Homo sapiens: one gene and its partners. The protein of the gene in region 3 interacts with the protein of the main gene of each other region in a pairwise test. Each region holds a gene or a part of one and is shown on either strand. Other genes may lie near its edges. The genes, in order: NELFCD, IGSF21 and GSTM4.

Evidence for each region.
Region 1: the proteins of GSTM4 (region 3) and NELFCD interact in a two-hybrid assay, tested with the Homo sapiens proteins (one large-scale study listed by BioGRID and IntAct).
Region 2: the proteins of GSTM4 (region 3) and IGSF21 interact in a two-hybrid assay, tested with the Homo sapiens proteins (one large-scale study listed by BioGRID and IntAct).

The regions. Positions count from the first base shown.
Region 1 is NC_000020.11:58,993,299-58,995,621, forward strand, and holds the end of NELFCD (negative elongation factor C/D), read left to right. Parts: intron 1-150; coding exon 151-246; intron 247-325; coding exon 326-466; intron 467-811; coding exon 812-941; intron 942-1,343; coding exon 1,344-1,378; 3' UTR 1,379-1,815; downstream 1,816-2,323. UniProt on the Homo sapiens protein: Essential component of the NELF complex, a complex that negatively regulates the elongation of transcription by RNA polymerase II.
Region 2 is NC_000001.11:18,106,266-18,110,679, reverse strand, and holds the start of IGSF21 (immunoglobulin superfamily member 21 precursor), read right to left. Parts: upstream 2,883-4,414; 5' UTR 2,552-2,882; coding exon 2,482-2,551; intron 1-2,481. UniProt on the Homo sapiens protein: Involved in synaptic inhibition in the brain. Selectively regulates inhibitory presynaptic differentiation through interacting with presynaptic NRXN2.
Region 3 is NC_000001.11:109,654,706-109,659,042, reverse strand, and holds the start of GSTM4 (glutathione S-transferase Mu 4), read right to left. Parts: upstream 2,945-4,337; 5' UTR 2,654-2,944; coding exon 2,618-2,653; intron 2,332-2,617; coding exon 2,256-2,331; intron 1,829-2,255; coding exon 1,764-1,828; intron 1,694-1,763; exon of another isoform or gene 1,508-1,693; coding exon of another isoform or gene 1,454-1,507; coding exon 1,372-1,453; intron 1,272-1,371; coding exon 1,171-1,271; intron 230-1,170; coding exon 134-229; intron 44-133; coding exon 1-43. UniProt on the Homo sapiens protein: Conjugation of reduced glutathione to a wide number of exogenous and endogenous hydrophobic electrophiles. Catalyzes the conjugation of leukotriene A4 with reduced glutathione (GSH) to form leukotriene C4.

The DNA of each region.
Region 1 (2,323 bases), on a different chromosome or scaffold from region 3:
AAGTGTTACTGGAAGCTGATGGCCCTGGCTTAGGTGTCAGGACCTTCTTCCACAGTGATAAGCTCTTTGGTGGCTGTGACAGTGCCCAGTTTCTCTGTGTGCTGAGCGTGACCACACTGCTCAGCGAAGCTCCCTCTGGCCTGTTTGTAGATCAGCACCTGCCACCAGCTCCTGCACCCCCAGGTCCTGCAGCTGCTTGTTAAGCTTTTTGAGACTGAGCACTCCCAGCTGGACGTGATGGAGCAGGTGAGCAGTGCCCGTGGGGCTTGCCAGAGGGCTGAGGAGGACCCTCTCTAACCAGCTCCCTGTCCCCCTTCTTCTGTAGCTTGAGTTGAAGAAGACACTGCTGGACAGGATGGTTCACCTGCTGAGTCGAGGTTATGTACTTCCTGTTGTCAGTTACATCCGAAAGTGTCTGGAGAAGCTGGACACTGACATTTCACTCATTCGCTATTTTGTCACTGAGGTCAGCAATGCACCGTTGGTTTCATGTTTCATACTGTTTACACTAGCACTGCCCTTTTTGGCTTAATTTAGTTCATTTTGTACCTAACTGAGAACTGTGCTTTCTGATGTAGTGATGACAATGACAGATACTCGTTTACCAAAAAGCACCTTCTGCCTGCAGCAGCTGTATGACACACTTTACCTCCATTACCACCCTGGGCATCTGAATGTTGGAGATGGGTGGTGTCACCGGCCGGTGGGGGTGGGGAGGGATTTTTTCCAAACTGATGGCCATTTCACCCGGATGTCGGTGGATGCCCCGCACTAGTGTGCGGAAGAAGTCACCCTGTGCTCCCCCACGCAGGTGCTGGACGTCATTGCTCCTCCTTATACCTCTGACTTCGTGCAACTTTTCCTCCCCATCCTGGAGAATGACAGCATCGCAGGTACCATCAAAACGGAAGGCGAGCATGACCCTGTGACGGAGTTTATAGGTGAGGCCGACTGCCTAGCCCTTTACTACAATAGAAAATGTCAGCTGGGCGCGGTGGCTCATGCCTGTAATCCCAGCACTTTGGGAGGCCAAGGTGGGTGGATCACCTGAGGTTGGGAGTTCAAGACCAGCCCGACCAACATGGAGAAACCCCATCTCTACTAAAAATACAGCATTAGCTGGGCATGGTGGCACGTGCCTGTAATCCTAGCTACTCGGGAGGCTGAGGCAGGAGAATCGCTTAACCTGGGAGGCAGAGGTTGCAGTGAGCCAAGATCGCGCCATTGCACTCTATCCTGGGCAACAAGAGCAAAACTGCATCTCAAAAAAAAAAAAAAAAAAGAAAGAAAATGTCATGTTCTACTTCCTGTTTCTAACACAGTCACTGTTTTCCTCGTTAAAGCTCACTGCAAATCTAACTTCATCATGGTGAACTAATTTAGAGCATCCTCCAGAGCTGAAGCAGAACATTCCAGAACCCGTTGTGGAAAAACCCTTTCAAGAAGCTGTTTTAAGAGGCTCGGGCAGCGTCTTGAAAATGGGCACCGCTGGGAGGAGGTGGATGACTTCTTTACAAAGGAAAATGGTAGCAGCTTCAGTGAGAAACTGCCCTTACAAACAGTCCCTTCTCTGCTGTCAATCCAATACTGCTCCCAAATCCTGTTTTCAGTGTTCATTTCCCTCAAGGCAGGCGCTGGGCTCCCACGACCCCTCAGGACAGATCTGGCCGTCAGCCGCGGGCCGCTGGGAACTCCACTCGGGGAACTCCTTTCCAAGCTGACCTCAGTTTTCTCACAAGAACCCAGTTAGCTGATGTTTTATTGTAATTGTCTTAATTTGCTAAGAACAAGTAATAAGTAAATTTTTAAAAAGCCTTTCTGCTGGGTTGGATTAAGTCCTGATGTGACATTGTTTTTGTGTGCGAATAAGGCACGGGCAGCCTCAGTCTCGTGCAGAGCCAGATACTTTATTCATCACTTGGGCGATTTGAAACTGCCAACTCCCTCCCTCCCTCCCCCACCCTTGATTCTAAAGTGACATAAGAATGGTGATAAGTCTGAACTCTTTCACCTCTTAAATGCCATATTATTGCCCACAGTTGCCAAATACAAAATATCAAGTCCTCTGCTGAAGAAGACTGAGGTCCCATCGTTTCCTGTGTCGCAGGTCACTTCTTCACCAGGTGGCTGACTGCATCATTGTGAGGCAGAGCCATGCTGTGCAAGTGTCATAAGTCATCCCACTTTCAACTCTCAGGAACACTCGCAGCCAGTGCCACGCTGTCCTCGCCATCCAATATTGATAGCCACCCCAGTTCCTGCCAGCCAGCCTGGCACACATAACCATAGGATCCCCTCTGGTCATGGGTCACCATGCCTTTTC
Region 2 (4,414 bases), about 92 Mb from region 3:
GGGAGCCAGGGCAAGGACTTCCGGCCCAGCCAGTGCGAGGGGCAGCGGCCTCCTTCCTCCTGCCAGACCCGACTCTCTAGCGTCGGGCACCCTTGCTCTGCCACCCAAAGGGGCAGAACCGGCGAGGGCGTTCTGGCCGTGCCCCTCCCCGAGCAGTGACCGCCAGTACGTTCGTGAAGGCCGGCGCGGGTTGCTCCTCTCTGCGCCCTCGGAGGCAGGTGGCCCTGCAAAGCCGCTGCCAGGTGCACCTCTCTCGGCCACCTCCAGGAAGGGCGCCCTCCTCCGGCACAGCCCGCCTCTTGCGTCTCTCACGGACTCTTCTCGCACCCCGCCCCCCATTCTGGGCACAGACTTGGAAGGAGGAAGGAGGGACCCCACCCTCGTGTGCTCTCCTCTGCGGAGAAGAGAGGGCTCCCGGCTGCCTCGGATCTCCCTCTGCGCCCCAGACGCGGAAAGTTTCCCATTCGCGATCCGCGTCTGCGCTCTTCCTTCATCCTGAGCAGCGGAGCTCCGAGGCCGCGCTGGCTGCACCGGCCCAGATGCGCTCACCCTCAGGCACGCCAACCCCCGCCTCCCGCAGCCCGCAGAGGCGGGCAAAGGGATTTGAGGCGTCAGGATGCCGGGTCAGCTCTCTGCAGCCGGGCAGCCAGAAGAACCCTGCTCCCGGGTTCCAGGGAGAGCTCGCAGGGTGGGGTCCTGACGGAGCCAGGGTTTCCCAACAAGCCCTTCTCATCAGTCCTCTCCTTCACCCTGCCGCGTCTCTCTGTTCTGCGCATTCCCAGGGAAAGGGGTGCTTACCTTAGGTCCCCAGCCTCCAACCCCCGCCCCCTGCAATGTCCAGGTGAGGGCTCCAGTGCCTTTCAACAAACCCCAGTGCCCTCTCGGCGGCGCTGGAACGAGGACCTCCCCCATGTAACCTTTCCCTCTAGAGCCCTCCTCCCAAAGTTGAGGGGGGACATTTTGATCCACTTAGGAAAGTCTCTTGTTCCAAGGGTAGGGGAACAAAGTACAGGGTTTGCATTCCTTCTGGGTTACACCAACCCCTCCCCCCTCGCTGTCAGGACCACCTTCCGGGCTCAAATTCTGCAGCTTCTCCCATCAGCAGACCCAGCACTCCCCAAGGACTTCGGGGTAGAAGGAGTTGGGGTTATTTTTAAGGGGGCACCCCTTCCTGGCAGGCACTCTCAGAGCCTAGGTAGGCACCTCCTGCTGGGACAAGGCTATGGCATAGGACAGAGGTGATGCCCACCTCTATCATCCAGTGGGGCTCGGGGTCGAGACCTTATTGATCATAAAGACGACTTTTTGGCACCTCGCGTCCCGCTCCCCTCCGAGGCGGAGCCAGGCTCTGACTCCAGCCAGGCTGAGGTTGGCACCAGGCTCCGAGGAGGATCCCGGACGCGGAGCCTGTAGTCTCGGTGCCTGCGGCTCTTCGCTGGTCCCGCCTCCCTCCCTCCTGGCTTTTAGCCTCACGTTGGCTCTCTGCTCACTGCGCGAAAGGGTTCAGCTCCATTTAAGACCCACTACGCGGCGGCACTGGGTGGGAGGCCGGCCGCGGACCCTGGGGCTGCGGAGCCACCTCTCACTGGCTCCGGAGAACCCGCTCGGCTTCAACCTCCTTCTAGCTGTCTTAGCCTAACCCGGGAGCAAGTCCACACGGCGGGACACACACACACACACACACACACACACACTGAGCTGCTCACAACTCCCCAGCCCCGGAAGCGTCCATACCTCCCTGCACACGATAACCACACGCTCCATGGCACGCATACACACACTCCCAGCCCCATGAAGCCCACGACTCCCAGGCACCTGCACCCCCACCCATCCCACATAAGCAGACTCTTGTCCAGTGTCACAGTCCCATCTCCTGTGCACACAGAAATAGTAATCCGCTGTCGTACACCCCTAGAGACCTGCACACTCGGGACACACGTGAAACGCCAAACCTCACATACCCACCCCCTAACACCTCACACCCACAGTGACACAAGCTCACACACTTCACACCCTCACAGGGAAGGTGGCACATGTTCACACCCTCCCCCCAACATTCGCTCACACTCTCACACACACACCTTCTCCATGTAACTGACACAGACACTCTAACACCCATCCAGACCCTCGCTCACTCACACGCAGACCCCACACCATCACACACACACGCACACACACACTTGCATCTCTAAATACACTCCCGCACCTTCTGCCCACACAGCTCCTTCCCGGACACCCTCACCCAGACACACAACAAAGACACACAATTTACACACACACACACACCCTGGCACAAATCCATGAGCGCTCTCCAAGAGGCGTCCTCCCTCCCTCATCGAGCCAACCAGCTCCACAGACCCCGGGCAGGACCGGTGCTCGTAGCCCGAGCCTCTCGGAGCGACCCCGGCCAGCGCCCTCCCCCGGCACCCCGTCCCCGCGCACGTTCACCGCTCGGCTCCCGCCAGGCGCCCGCGCACTCACCGCGCGCCAGGTCCAGGATCGCGGCGAGCAGCAGGCAGACGCAGCGGCGGAGGCTCGGGGCGGTTCGCATGGTGCCCGGGAGCTGGCGGCGGTGGCGGGGCGGCGGGGGTGGAGGCGGTGGCGGCGGGTCCCCTCGCCATGGGCTCAGACGCGCTCCTGCCTCCGGCCACTGGCCGAGGCGGTGGCGGGCAGCGCGGAGAGCCGCGGGGGCGCCCCCATGCCGCCGCGGCCAGGCAGCCCGGGCGCCCGGCTCGACTCGGCTCCGGCTCTGCGAGGCGCAGCGACCCTCGCGCTCTGGGCGTCCTCGGGGCTCGCCGCGGTTCTCGGCTCCCTAGCTGCGCGCGGTGCCCACCGCGGCCCAGAGTCCGATCGGCTGCAGCGCCGGAGTTTGGAGCCGAATCGCGCTCTCTGCCTCGCGCTCGCCTCTCCCGGCGGCGCGAGCACCCCCCTCCTCTCGCCCTCCCTCCGTCCCTCCCCCTCTCCCCGCCCCCCCGCCCTCCTTGCCCTCCCCTCGCCGCGCTCTCCGCGTATTATACAGACTTTTCTTTAATCCTTTCTGGGCTGTTCGGCTCTCGTCCGCTAAGCCGATTTATTGCAGGGAGAAGGAGAGCTCACCCCCTCCTAACCTCCCCTCTCCCCTCACTCAGGTCCCCCCTCACTCAAAACTGGCTTGCTGCCTCCAGCTTCTTAACCCTTACCCAGGTGACCCAACACCCCGCCCTGGAAGCTATGCTCCATCGGATCCGCCTTTACCTAGCCCCTCCTATCCCCGGGATTACCATCGCCCTCCCCGCTACTCAGCCTGATGAAAGGAGGCAGCCTCCCTCCCGAGAGGGAAAGATGCCATCCTGGGAGCAGGGCAGGCAGGGTGTGGCTCTGGAGTTCTGACCTTGCCAACGATGAATGCCCTCATTGGGCAAGATTAAGGGGTTTCCATGTTCTGAAACTTCCCCAATTACGGCTGCTCCTTCCCCCAGGGACCCACGGAAATGGGGTGTGTTCTGTCTTTTTCCCATGTGCTAGGATCCAGCCAGGAAGGGTGAGGAACTGATTGTTTCCTCCTGGCAGAGACCAAGTTTCCACCTTTTTGCCAGACCTGACAGCTTTTCTTCCCAGGTCCGAGAAGAACAGGTTTGGGACTTGTATGTTACCATTACTCTCCCACCAACACACACGCGAGCACACACACACACACACACACACACACACACACACCATTGAGCCTCAGCCCTGGCGGTGGACTTTGAGGCCTCCTGCGAGGATGAAGGGGAGGGGTACTCTAGCCCTTGGAGTGGACTGGGGATGTGGTTAGATGAGGAAGTTCAGGAGATAGAATTTCACCATTGGTAGGGACCCAGAAGATTGGCAAAGCCCAGAAAAACCAGCACGACCAGGGGCAAAACCTGCTCAGAACTCAGGTGGGTCCCTTTACCCAGGCCTTCTATGGAGAATCTCCAGCTTCCCTAGCTCTGGCAGGTTGCTGAGTCAGGCTGTTGCATCGTTTACCTACATGGGCAATGGGTCTATAGCCAGTTCCATCTCCAGCAGCCCTCTGAGAGGAGTGTAGGGAGTGGGGTGGGCAATGGGTGGTTGCTGGGCTGCCTCTGGGTGAGCTTTGTGCAGAGATGTCCATGAAAGTGAACTGCTCCCTCCTCCTGCCCTCTGGAACCTCACCCCATCGCCTCCCAAGGCAGCTCTGCGGCTCAGCTTGCTCACCCACCCCAGAAGGAGCGATTTGCATTTATGAAGATCTGAAAGCATACGTTCACCTGACAGGCTTTAGAATGATCCTCTCAGTAAAATAATAATAATGATCATAATAAACCCTTATAAATAGGTGTTTGATTACAGTTTGTCCCTAAGTGGGATTTTTTTTTTTTTTTTTTTTTTTTTTTTTTGTGAATCAGACTAATTGGTTCCAGGTTGATTGGAC
Region 3 (4,337 bases):
GGAGGTCAAGGACATCATAGGCGAGGAAATCTACAAAGGTGATCTGCAGAAGGCCAAGAATGTGTGGGCTGGAATCTCTGTAACGTAGGATGTATGGCAAATCTCTAGTGTCCTCATCACATGCCCCCATTACCTTGTCTCCAACAAACCATGGCCTCTTCCCCAGGAACTGTGAGAAGTGCTGCATCATTGTAGGAAGTTCCTCCAAGTATTCTGGCTTCAGTTTCTCCTGAGGCAGAAAACAGCTGTCACCACCCTCAGACACAAGCTCCCTGCACAGATGTGGCCTCCCCAGGGCTGTGTATGGCCCCAGCTGGCCACGAGCAAGCAGCCATCTTCCCCACAGCTGGAACTGGCTTCAGCTGGACATACCAGCATTTATTACACTCCAAATGGGTAGCTGGAGGCTTTTGTGGTGATGGGAAGGCAGAGAGGAATGCAACACTATCCCTGAATCTGTCCCCACTGACCTCCCAACCACCCTCCTCTGGGTCAGCCCAGGAGCACCTGAGTACCTGGCAGGCTCTGGACCCAGACATGAGCAAAATCAAGGATACAAAGAACTAAAGGAGCTCAGAGAAAGAAGTTGAAAGTTCCTCCTAGTGCAGTGGCAGAATAATACAATGGACATTGAGTAGTTTCTGGAGAGATGAGATTTTGAGAGGCTGCATGGAAGGAGACAGAGGAACAAAGGCCCTCTGGCCGCCCCTGAGCTGCCTGTTAGGAAAATGCATTCATCCCTGTGCGTGTCAAGGAGAAGCACTAGGAAAAGAATAGCACGGAATTCCACAGAGGAGGGTGCTATTACATCCCACTACATACTTCTTTACCCCATAGTGTGAGTCTGCGTATTCCCCGAACAGGCAGATGGCATGAACCAGCTGGGTTAGATGGCCCGTGGCAGAGGTCAGGGGTCAGAGGTGAAGGGAATTCTGAACGCATGACTTTATTGTCTAGGAACTGAATTGCTAGCTTTCATAGGACTTCCTATGATTGGTGGGGACTGATTTCAAGTTTTTATTTTATAAGTTTAATGATATGACAGTCACTCTGCTACAGTACAGGGAACCCTCAGAGGATCAATAGCAGTGAGGAGTTCAAATTGTGAATAGGACCAGAGTAGATGGGAATACAAGCCTGGCTTCTGGTCCAGACCAGGGAGGGACTCACAAAGTCAGGGCTGTAGCAGACTCTGGCCAGCTGATTGGAGACGTCCATAGCCTGGTTCTCCAAAATGTCCACACGAATCTTCTCCTCTTCTGTCTCCCCACCTGCCACCCACAAAACACAGACTCACTCTGAGCATAGCACCCCAATCCAGCCAAGGAGGATGCCACCTTCCCCCCACACACTGCAGCCAACCACACTCACACAGGTTGTGCTTGCGGGCAATGTAGCACAGGATGGCGTTGCTCTGGGTGATCTTGTGAGCCCCATCAATCAAGTAGGGCAGCTGGATAGATGGGAAACCGGGGAAGCTCAGTTGGGCCAGCAGGCTCCCCAGCATCCCCTTCCCATATGCAAGGGCAGAGGGGAGACCAGGCACTCACTGTGCCCGCTCATGGCAGGCCTGACATAGAAATACTGTCACATGAACAAATGAGCTGGGACACAGAACATCATGCAGGGGCTGTGTAGACAACCAGGAGTGAGAGGAATTGGGCAGAAGACTCCTGATCCGAACACCTCTAATCTGGGGAGAGGAGATGCAGTCAGAGACACGTCGCACTTTCCCCCAAAACCGCCCCTTCCCCTGCACCTACATTGGGAAAGTCCAGGCCCAGCTTGAATTTTTCATTCAGCCACTGGCTTCTGTCATAGTCAGGAGCTGCCGTGGGGAAGAAGAAGTGAAAACAAACCTCCCCAGAGCCCAGCCCTCCTTCCCGGGGACCCTCCCAAGGAACCAGTGGCAAGATCCCTGAGACAGGTGGATCTAGAATCTGACCACTCAGTCCCACATCCCAGGGTTCAGGGACAAAGAATCCCGCTGAGGGCTCTGGACCCCACACGGCTAAGGCTTCCAGGGTTTAGGGAAGCTCTGAGGGACACCCAACCCAATTAAACAGGGGGCCCAGCATCCCGCCCCAGCATTCTGCCTTGCAAGGCCACAGGACTCCCTCACCGGGGCTCAGGGAAGGGACAGCCTGCAGCTCCAGCAGGGGAGGCCTGCAGAGGTAGCCACAGGTGGCCACCATGGGTTGCTTGGTGCCAACTCAGCGTGAGTGGGCAGAGCCCGGACACAAGGGTGTCATTACCGTCCCCCATCGTATACTTCTTTTCCTCGTAGCTTGAGTCTGTGTATTCCAGGAGCAGGCGGATGGCGTGGGCCAGCTGGAAGAGATGGCCCGCAGGTCGTGTCAGAGATGGAGGGTCCCTGACTTGGTGACTTTCTCTGCACCAGGTGAGCCCCTAGTCTACACTGCACTGCACCCCCCCCCCACCCCGGCGCACGCACACACACACACACACACACACACACACACACACACACAGGCATGCACAGGCCCTCCTGTGAGAGATAGCCCTAAGGAGGGAACCGTCCCTAGAGCCGGTCCCCAGCCGCTCGGCACTTCCCGCCCACGCGCCCGGTCCCACAGTGCAGCGGACCCTCACTCACCCCGCGGATGTCCCAGTACCCCAGTGTCATGGACATGATGCTGGTTGGTGTCGATTCTGCAGACAGGCCTCAGCTGGGCTGAACTGCGACCTCCTCTGGGGTTCCCGGCACGCAGGGGCTGGACCTAGCGCCAGACCCGCCCCCTCGGCCCCGCTGCGCCCGCCGATCTTCAAGGTCGTCACTTCCAACCGGCCGATCTTCAAGGTCGTCACTTCCAACCAACAGGCGCGGGAGGCACGGAGCAGGTTGCTGGATCCTCACTGGCTGGAAGGAGTAAGATCCACCGCCACCTCCGAGTGTTCAGGGAGCAAGGTCCGGAAGCACTAGGAGGGGCTCGGCCTCGCCAGCTTCCGTAGCCCCGCCCCGCCCCGCTCCGCTTCGGACCTCTGCTGGGTCCCCAGGGACTCGGCTGTGCGCGTGAGAGTAAAGCCAGATCGTAAGAGAAAAGTTCTTCCCCCGTTTCTTCTTCTCCGGACGTCGCCCAGCCTTCTGCCTCTCGGCTGCCGAGTTCCCACAGGCTCTGGGAGACTGAGGCTGCCAGGGTCAGACTAAAGAGAGGTCTCAGAGAGTTTAATTCAACACTTCTTGGCTACTAAGTCTTAGAAGTCTGATGGTGTGCTCTCTCTGCTGAGTTGGGGAGCGTGAATGGAGGCTATGTCACCGAAGCTGATAGAGCTCAGTCTCTGTTGCAGATGCTCCCGACCCTTTTGCATTGGGCCAGTTCCCCAGCTCTGAGACTGGGTCCAGGCTCAGGAAGTGGCCTATGTGTCAAGGTGGATTCCCATGTAGGTTTGCCTACAGCAAGACGATAGCACCATGCACACACAAGTGCTTGGACTTCTGAATAGTTATACTTCTCATTATACATTAAGACATTAAGAATGTGTCATTCTGAGTCTTTTTTTTTTTTTTTTTTTTGGAACGGGGACTCGCTGTGTTGCCCAGGCTGGAGTGCAGTAGGGCGATCTCGGTTCATTGCAACCTCCGCCTCCCGGGCTCAAGCGATTCTCCTGCCTCAGCCTCCCGAGCAGCTGGGATTACAGACGAGCGCCACGACGCCCTGCTAACTTTTTTGTATTTTCTGTAGAGATGGGATTTCACCGTGTTGACCAGACTGGTCTTGAACTCCTGGTCTCAAGTGATCCACCCGCCTCCGCCTCCCAAAGTGCTGGGATTACAGGCATGAGCCACGGTGCCTGGCCTGTCATTCTGAGTTTATCCATCTTGAGCTGGGAAAGATAAAATGTCTAGGTCCAATTGTGAAGATGATTTTTTAAGAAAGCTAACACTTATGAGAATAATTATGAAAGAAACAGAATTGATATTGTTACATTAGTATTCACCCATTTGGTCATTCCTTTATTGAAACAACAGTTGTTGAGATCCTACCATATTCCAGGCACTGGGAATAAAACAATCCTTCAAAAACACTGTACTTTGGCCACCTACGACTAGAAGTCAGGTGGGAACTACAGGGGAGAGATTTTGAAAATACGGGACACTTCTTACTGTTTTTGCACACTGAGAGGCAGTGGAGTGGGAGAGGGGTTGAGTGTAGGAGAGAGAAGCGGTGCCTGCTGTTGCAAGGACTCTGAGGAGCCAGGAAGACGGGGCCCAGGTCCCAGGTGGCTTCTTCAGAAGGAGGAGTACGGCTCTGCGGAAGGCGGGAAGAACTGGACCAGCAGGATCTCCAAAGTAGGGGCCACAGTGGCCACGAGGA